3 separate regions of the Homo sapiens genome follow, and all the other regions are linked to region 2. Evidence: fine-mapped expression QTL. A gene starts in region 2. Each other region holds a variant in brackets. All regions are shown on one strand. Distances are between the middles of the regions.

Region 1 (2,500 bases), 180 kb before region 2:
GCCCTGGGAGAGTACATGCTGAGTGTGGATCTGACCCCTGTGTCTCTCACAGCATAGATGGAACCTCAGGAGCCAGGAGGCTGCCCTGCTCGCAGACCTGTAGACTGAAAGAGGACTATGATTAAGCATAAGGGTCAGGCTAACCAGCCAGGAAGGGCAACCTGGGGCCCTCCTAAGAGATCTTCCAGCTCACTTAATGCTCAAAAATGTGGCTAAGGTGCAGCGTATAAGGTGAATGTCCTCAACACTGGCTCATCAACCTAAACCATGTTCTAAGGCTTGGAATATTAAGCCTGTATCCACAGACTGGCAAGAAAGCTGACTGGTCTTATTAAGGAGTGAGGTGAGGGAGTAGTTATGTGTGGGCACCAGCAGATCTAGGGTAGGGTCTTCTCCTAGTTCCTACCAACCCAACTGAAAGAGGTGCTTCCAGATATGGGTTTGCTGGATTAGGGTAACAGATGGCTTCAGCTTGACATCTGTGCCTGGTTGGTTGGGTGGCCAGCCTTTTAGCCACTTCTCCCAATGACTGTGACGAGTGCAAGCAGCCCATGAGACAAAGGGAAGGCAGAGCCCAGCAATGAGTTCTTAGACCAGGGACCACAGCACATCAGTCCGTTATATTCAACCACAGGCCTTGGCTCCCACAAGGTGAGACTGTCATCCAACAGGATGAAGCCAAATCCCACAGATCCACCTTCCTAGAACCTTCTCTGAGTAGTGGTGGGATAGACATAACGTAGGGAGATAGGTGTTCTAGAGTCTACATGGTCTTGCTTGGGATCTAGCTGCTGCAGCCCCACCATAAAGGGCCATGCACAGGAAGAGCCTGGTGTATGTCTAAGCAAGTAATGCGAACACTTTCTAAATGCCCTGTCAAATATGTGTCTTGCTGCGTTCCCCTTGCTGACCACTTGAATGAATTCCATGGGAGATGGGTCCTATGGGAGAGCAGGAGTCGAAGGAGAAAGGATGGTAAGTTTAAGAGCAGGTGGGCATCATATGTCCTGAGAGAGGTAGCTCAGAGGTAAAGAGACAAACATCAGGTGCCAACCAACAAGTACTATTCCAAGCCTGTTCAGGAAGCTCTTGCTTCCGTATCTTACATGGGACTAGATGGAGCTGGAAAACACGGCCCCATCCAACAACTGCTTGCCTACTCAGTGCTAGGTCCTGTGCTGAGTACGAGCTCAGAACCTAAAAGTAAATTAGGCTTGGTCCTTTCCTCAAGAAGCTAGTGATAGAGACAGGTAGAGAAATAATCATAAGAAAATATATGTAATATATGTCCACATTCTATATTCTGGAATAGGATGCTATATTTTGGTACAAAGGTCACTGACCAACTTGAGGGTACTGGAAAGACATCTCAAAGGAGATAATGGCAAAGCTGAGCTAAGCCTTGAAAGACAAGTAAATAAACGTTAAGCCTGGTGGAGAATGTTCAGAAGGGTAGTTGTAAGACAAAGGCACAGAAGAGAAGAGAACCATAAGTAACTGTCCCTTCAAGATAAGGAGAGAGAATGCTGAGGCTGGAGGAGGGAAGTAGCCCCCATCAA[C/T]GGCAGAGGAACTTCAGCCTGGCACCCTCCCCACCCCGCACCCTTGTAACTCTGCCCTCTAGTTCCACCCAGGCAGGTGGAGCAATGTGTGAGGAAGAATGGGCAGGCAAGTGCATTCTGACTAGGTGTAAACAAAGCAGCTGAGATGCAAATACTGCACAGAAGGAAAAGGCCAGGCAGGGCGTGCATCAGCACTGCAGGGCTGGCCTGGTGCCTGAGGCTGTGTCAGGACCAATTTCAAGCTGGATCATCACTGGTACTTTCAGGCACTCAGTTCATGCTCTTTCTTGTTGGCACGTTGCAGTGGATATCCACATCTCTTCCCCTGTCTTCTACAATAGCATCCCCCTTTTCATTCCATATGCTCCTGGTTCGGCTGATCCCCACCACTGCTACTGGGATGGGCACATGTCTGGGCTGACCAATCAGGAGACCCCTTCCTAAGTGGCTCAGGAATGGGCACCTAGCCAGGCACGGTGGCTCATGCCTGTAATCCCAGCACTTTAGAAGGCTGAGGTGGGAGAACTGTTTGAACCTAGGAGTTTGAGACCAGCCTAGGCAACACACTGAGACCCTGTCATTATGAAAAATAAAATTGAAAAATTTAGCCAGTCATGGTAGTGCACGCCTGTAGTCCCAGTTACTTGGGAGGCTGAGGCAGGAGGACCGCTTGAGCCTGGAAGGGTCGAGGCTGCAGTGAGCTATGATCTTGCCACTGCACTCCAGCCTGGGCAACAGAGTGAGAGCCTGTCTCTAAATAAATAAATAAATAAATAAATAAATAAATAAATAAAAGAATGGGCACTTGACCTAAGTGCTATGCACCATGGTCTTCTCTGAGATTTCATATTTGGACGCTGGGGGCTGTGGGAGTCTCTTTTTTTCTCTAAGATAGTGACCTATACAAACCATGCAAGCCCAGAACAGGGTCAGGCAAACTA
Region 2 (2,844 bases):
AAGAGATTATTTGAAAGTATCATTTGGCTATAAATTTCTGTGCCAGCTTCCTTTTAATCCTCTGTTGACTTGAAAGTACACCAAACATTTCAGTGATCATCTCTACAAGATAATTCTGCCTTAGAAACAACCTAATTTGTCATGGGGACTATCTTACTTTTAGTAACCTAATAAGAGTTTTTTCCTACCTTAATGTCCAGCTATCTATAATTCACAGTACATCCACTGAAAAGTTTGAGTATTTTACTTTCTGAGGTAATAGCCGCCTTCACTGGTCCTTCCCTCAATTAATTACATTCAGTTATCAGGTTTCACTCCTTCCTCATACGTGAAGGAAACATAAATGAGGCTTACTGAGGAATCATAAAAATGGACATTGTTGTAAAAAGGAATCCAAAATGTTCATGGGACACTCTCCTAACCAAACCTGCCCTCCTCACTAAGATATTTTCTCTTGCAAGCAAAAGCACCGAGGACACAACGGGGGAAAGTGCCAGAAGGAAAGGAAGCAAGAGAGGCGTACTTTGCCGATCAAACTGACCCCAGTTCTGGCCCCCGCTAGAGCAGTAAGCAATGACAACCGCTACCCAAACGCTGCCGATTCCCGCTCAGGCGCTCCCTGGACTTTTCTTTCCTTTTCCCACAGCAGGGCCCGAATGACGGTGTCCGTGCTCTGCGCCAAGGTGCGCAGCGCTGCGGGGTTTCACACGGAGATGATCTCAGACCTCCTGGCCTGCGTCCGGCCGGCCTTTCCCCCAGGCTCGGCGGCCCCCACCCAGGAGAGGTCATCCAGGTACTGGGCCCCCAGCCCGAAGGACGACTGGGCCGTGCCCCGACCCCGCCTTCCCGGGCACTAGCGCGCGGGCTCCGCGCCCCGCCCAGCCCGGGACCCGCGGCCGGCGGGGGAGGGGCGGGGCGGAGCGGCGACCGTTATTCGCGGTCAGCCATCGCGCCCCGAAGCGCACTGGGCAGGCCCTTACCACAGCGGAGAGGGAGGCAGGGGGGAGGTGGCGCCCGGCCCGACGCGGGGCAGGAAGGCGGAGGCAGCGGCGTAGGCGGCGGCGACAGCCGCGGGGGACCCCGGCGGGAGCCCACAACGCGCTGGGCTGCATGGGCGCCGCCATAGTGGGGACGCAGCGGCGGGCGGAGCGCGCGGCCGCGACCCGGTCGGGCGCCTGCGACCAATGGGCTCGCGGAAGCCGGGCGGAGCGAGGGCCTGGCCAATGCGGAGCTGCGCTGCCCCGAGCAGCCCAATAGACGCAGGAGCCGCGGATTTGCCGTCCCGCCCACCCCGCCTACCACGAGAGCAGTGCTGCGGCGAGTGCGGGGCGAGAGGTTCGCGCTGGTGGAGCACCCCAGCTTGCAGGTTCAGCGTGGGTGTCTCTCCCGGGCACATCGAGCTGTCTAGAGGAACCCTCTTCCCCTGGCTTCACGGCCCAGAGGACGCACGGCTCTCTCCCCTCGAGAGCGTGTTTCGTCGCCCGCGCGGGGAACGCAAAGTGCTAGGGTAGTCACGGCCACTTCACGCCGAGGGACATCTCATCTCGCCCTCCAGGTCGTGAGCGCACCCATTCCGCTCACTGAGGCCGAAAGCTTCGGACCTCCGTGGGCCCTGGTGGGTAAGGGGGCACGGGGGTGAGCGTTAAGAGACTCGTAGAACATTTTTAGTCCGCGCGTGGCACAAGGCCTCCAAGCCCCACGTACACTTTGCAGCCCTCCCACTCCTTTTTCATTCCTGCGGCTGAGCCCTGGTGTTATCCGCCTGGGGCGGAATTTAAAACTTAATTCCTCAACAAAGTCGGGGTGGTCTTTAAACTGCAACCTTGGATCCAAAGGCCCTACCTTACAAAGGGAAGGCAGTTTGCCCTACAAAAAGGCTTCTGGGAGGAGCTGCCTAAGGCAGGAAGGGACTGGCAGGCCGGGAGGTGCCGCTTTTGGCTGGGGCCAGTTCTCTTGAGGTCGACCCGACTGCATAGGCAGCCAGTAGGGGAGAGAACGGGCCGGTCTGTGTGATTTGGATCACCTGAGTTGCAGTTTCCTAAGAGTTATTAGGTTGACCAAAAAAAAAAAGTGCAGTTTCTGGAAAACTGGTCAGCTGTTGAGTAAAAACTGCTGGGATTAAACCCAGCGCCCACCCCTGGAGGCAGTGGGGTCATCGAGAAAGGTAGGGATCCTGTGTAAAAAGGCTGGTGAAGTGTTCCTCTCTTCCAAAGATGTATGGATTAGTGTTCTCTCACCAATCCACTAAGGCCTGGTTCTGCCCAGCCTCCCTTGCTACATCCCCTGGGAATCCCCAAGTGGAGTGTGGGCAAAGAAAAAAAAAGGCCAACTTCCCTCCCTGGGCCCCAGGAGGGAGCTGACATAGAAAAGATCACCTCCTGCACCTCCCTTTCTCCACAATGAGATACCAAGTAGCAACCACCTCTCAACCCCCAGGGACACAAGGAAGCATCCAGAGCAGCTGAACTGACCTAAGCCTCTCCTGCACCTGGACAGGGCCATGCCACAGGAAGTGCCTGGCTGTTTAAGGGCCAGCCGGTGCAGCTCCGGGGCACCCAAGTCCTGCACCTATTCATTGCCCCCCTCCCTGCTCTGTGGTTCCCCATCCTTGTCCACTTTGACCTCAGGGATCTACCAGCCAAAGGAGATTGGGTCTTCCTCCAGGGAAGCTTCTCACCAACTAGACAGCTCGGAGAGCAATCTGAGGATCCCACTGGAGGTTGAGTCCCTTGCTTTTCAAGCACCTAAAATGCACCCATCCTTCCCACTGGTTCCACAATTTGTATAGAGCACAGATGCTGGCATGAACTTAGGCCAGTTCAACAAAGATGTATCAAATGGGGC
Region 3 (2,500 bases), 150 kb before region 2:
AGACAGTGAGCTGGGACCATGCCTGCGTTTTTTAAAACCATTTCCCCAGTGCCCACACAGTGCCCAGCACTTGATAAAAATGTATTACATGAGTGAACAGACAGATATGCAATATCCAGTTATTTGAGTCAACTGAGGGAGACCGTCAAACTCAATGTTTTGAAGGAAGAATAATCCAGAATTTAATATGTCCTTAGAGCCACTTTAGACTCTGTCCACTGTTTTTTTGAAACTGGGTCTCACACGGTCACCCAGGCTGGAGTGCAGTAGCATGATCACAGCTCATTGTAGCCTCAACCTCCCTGGCTCAAGCGATCCTCCTGCCTCAGCCTCCTGAATAGCTAGGGCTACAAGTGCACACCATTATGCTAATTAAATTTTTTTTTTTTTTTTTTTTTGGTAGAGACAGAGTCTCGCTATGTTTCCCAGGCTGGTTTCAAACTCCTGGGCTCAAGTGATCCTCCCGCCTCAGCCTCCCAAAGTGTTGGGATTACAAGTGTGAGCCACTGCGCCTGGCTCTGCCCACTGTTGATGCTGCTGGTGTTGGTCCTGGGAAGGAAGCCCAGAGTGCTGGGCCCAGCTGCACAGTGGGCCTGGACATGGCAGAACACCCAACTAGGTCAGTAGGACCCGCCGCTTCCATTTCCCTCCCCAAGCCCAAGCCAGCTGCAAGGAGTGTGGTGATAGGATAAAGGCAAGAGAAATGGGAGCTGTCCCCAGTTTAGTCAGTCACCAAGTGGTGATGGAGGGTAAGATAGAGGTAAAAATTAGACAAGGTCTCAGGAGGGAATTATAATGTGGTATACACAGAACTGTTACAGATAGAGGTGCACACAGAGCTGGGGGAGCTCCAGGGCAGGAAAAGCTTCACAGAGGAGGTGACATCTGAGCTGGAGTTTTAAAGGTGGAGAATGTGAGGACAGACACTCCAGACAGCACATGCATGTGGACAGCTGGCCAAGCTGAGTGCCTGCCTTGTCCAGGCCCCTTTGGAGGGGAGAGGCCTGCCACAAGCAGTTCTCTCAGCAGAGACTGCTGTGCTTGATGCCAGACAACGTTCAAGTTACTCACTGAAGTAAAAGCAGTAGTTGTCTCTCTTTTTTTTTTTTTTTTTTAAGACAGATTTTCGCTCTTGTTGCCCAGGCAGGAGTACAATGGCGTGATCTTGGCTCACCGCAACCTCCGCCTCCCGAGTTCAAGCGATTCTCCTGCCTCAGCCTCCCAAGTAGCTGGGATTACATGCATGTGCCAACACGCCCGGCTAATTTTGTATTTTTAGTAGAGACGGGGTTTCTCCATGTTGACCAGGCTGGTCTCGAACTCCTGACTTCAGGTGATCCGCCTGCCCTGGCCTCCCAAAGTGCCGGGATTACAGGCGTGAGCCACTGTGCCCGGCCAAAGCAGTAGTTCTTAAGGCAAAGAATATGGAGAAGCACTCCAGGTTGGGGGACTAGCAGGCACAG[C/A]ACAAAGGCATAAAAGACTATGGGTTAGTAAGGCATTGGCATGTAGGGGTTACGGCACCAGGAAGCATCAGCTTAAATTATTAATTTAATTTATTAATTGAAGCATCAGCATAAGTTATGAGTCATCGGTTGCATCCTGTGTAGCTGGAGTTGCCAAAAGCCACATTTCCCAATATGTGGAAGTATTTCTGTATCAACAAATGCCAGTCACCTGGGTTTGTATGCAGTCTATACAAGTCCTGACAGCTCCACACCAAGACATATTACTGGAAGGTCTCCATGAGAGTTGAGGCAGTCAGAGCATAAAGACAGAACCACACTTACCACCCCAGACGAGGCACTCACTGCATGCCAGGCACCAGGACACACATGTCATGGACATTATTTAGTGTTATCCCCATAAATGCCCATGAGATGGGGGCTGTTATTCGCATTTTGCAGATAAGGAGGCTGATGTTTAACATGACTAAGGGCTTGTCCAAGGTTATACAGCTAGCAAAGTAGCAAAGTTGGGATTCTAACCCAGGTTTGCCTGATTTCAAAACCTAAGCTCTCTTCACTTGCCCAGACGGAGGCAGAGGAGCTCCCAGCTGTATTCCATCTTTGCTGAGAAAGCATGAAGGAGATGCTGTGAACCTGGCACAGGCACACAAGGTCAAGCCACAGGGATCGGTGAAACAGCGGTGAGGCCAGGTGGTAAAGATGTACCCCTCGTCCTCCGACCAGCCTCACCGCAGTGCCAACAGATGACAGTCTAAGTACAGTAAGACCACTTTTGCCTCAGCTCAAAAGCTTTCTACTTCCTGAACCTACCCTCAGAAAAGGTCTGAAATTAGGCCCAGTTACAGGCTGGAAAAAATGATCAACCTCTGGCTAGGGAGAACATGGTGACTGTAACCCACATAGCCTACATCCCTCCACTGCCCTCCCTTTCTGCATCTAGCACTCCAGGGGTTAGGGAAAGGGGCTCATGGCTAGACAGGAAGAGACCTGCTGCTCATGGAGGATGGCCCTTGGGATCCAGATGCATGGCAGAA

Direction of the effects. Alleles are on the strand shown, and positions count from the first base shown. SD is a standard deviation of normalised expression in the study named.
For the expression in fibroblasts of the gene that starts at base 1,138 in region 2, allele T in region 1 goes with a lower level than allele C (small effect, 0.15 SD a copy in GTEx).
With allele A in place of C in region 3, the expression in monocytes after Pam3CSK4 of the gene that starts at base 1,138 in region 2 is higher (moderate effect, 0.69 SD a copy in Quach 2016).

Evidence for each region. PIP is the estimated chance that this variant, and not a neighbour inherited with it, causes the effect. A credible set is the group of variants that fine-mapping cannot tell apart.
Region 1: its variant is the best candidate, but not a certain one, in a credible set for the expression of ST3GAL3 in fibroblasts (GTEx, PIP 0.71).
Region 3: its variant is the best candidate, but not a certain one, in a credible set for the expression of ST3GAL3 in monocytes after Pam3CSK4 (Quach 2016, PIP 0.73).

What each region holds. Positions count from the first base shown.
Region 1 is chr1:43,882,793-43,885,292 of GRCh38, reverse strand. The region is part of intron 5 of ST3GAL3 (ST3 beta-galactoside alpha-2,3-sialyltransferase 3); the gene reads right to left. Among named protein-coding and RNA genes, the nearest start is that of MIR6079, 45 kb to the right of the region's middle. The variant C/T (reference allele first, on the strand shown) is at 1,560.
Region 2 is chr1:43,705,830-43,708,673 of GRCh38, reverse strand. ST3GAL3 (ST3 beta-galactoside alpha-2,3-sialyltransferase 3) reads right to left here and starts at 1,138. Exons shown (of 12, transcript NM_006279.5): 1 at 981-1,138. It overlaps KDM4A-AS1 (KDM4A antisense RNA 1), which reads left to right and starts at 1,333. Exons shown (of 5, transcript NR_033827.1): 1 at 1,333-1,615. RefSeq lists silencers at 671-720, 751-1,250 and enhancers at 1,381-1,460, 1,186-1,703.
Region 3 is chr1:43,860,644-43,863,143 of GRCh38, reverse strand. The region is part of intron 5 of ST3GAL3 (ST3 beta-galactoside alpha-2,3-sialyltransferase 3); the gene reads right to left. Among named protein-coding and RNA genes, the nearest start is that of MIR6079, 23 kb to the right of the region's middle. The variant C/A (reference allele first, on the strand shown) is at 1,464.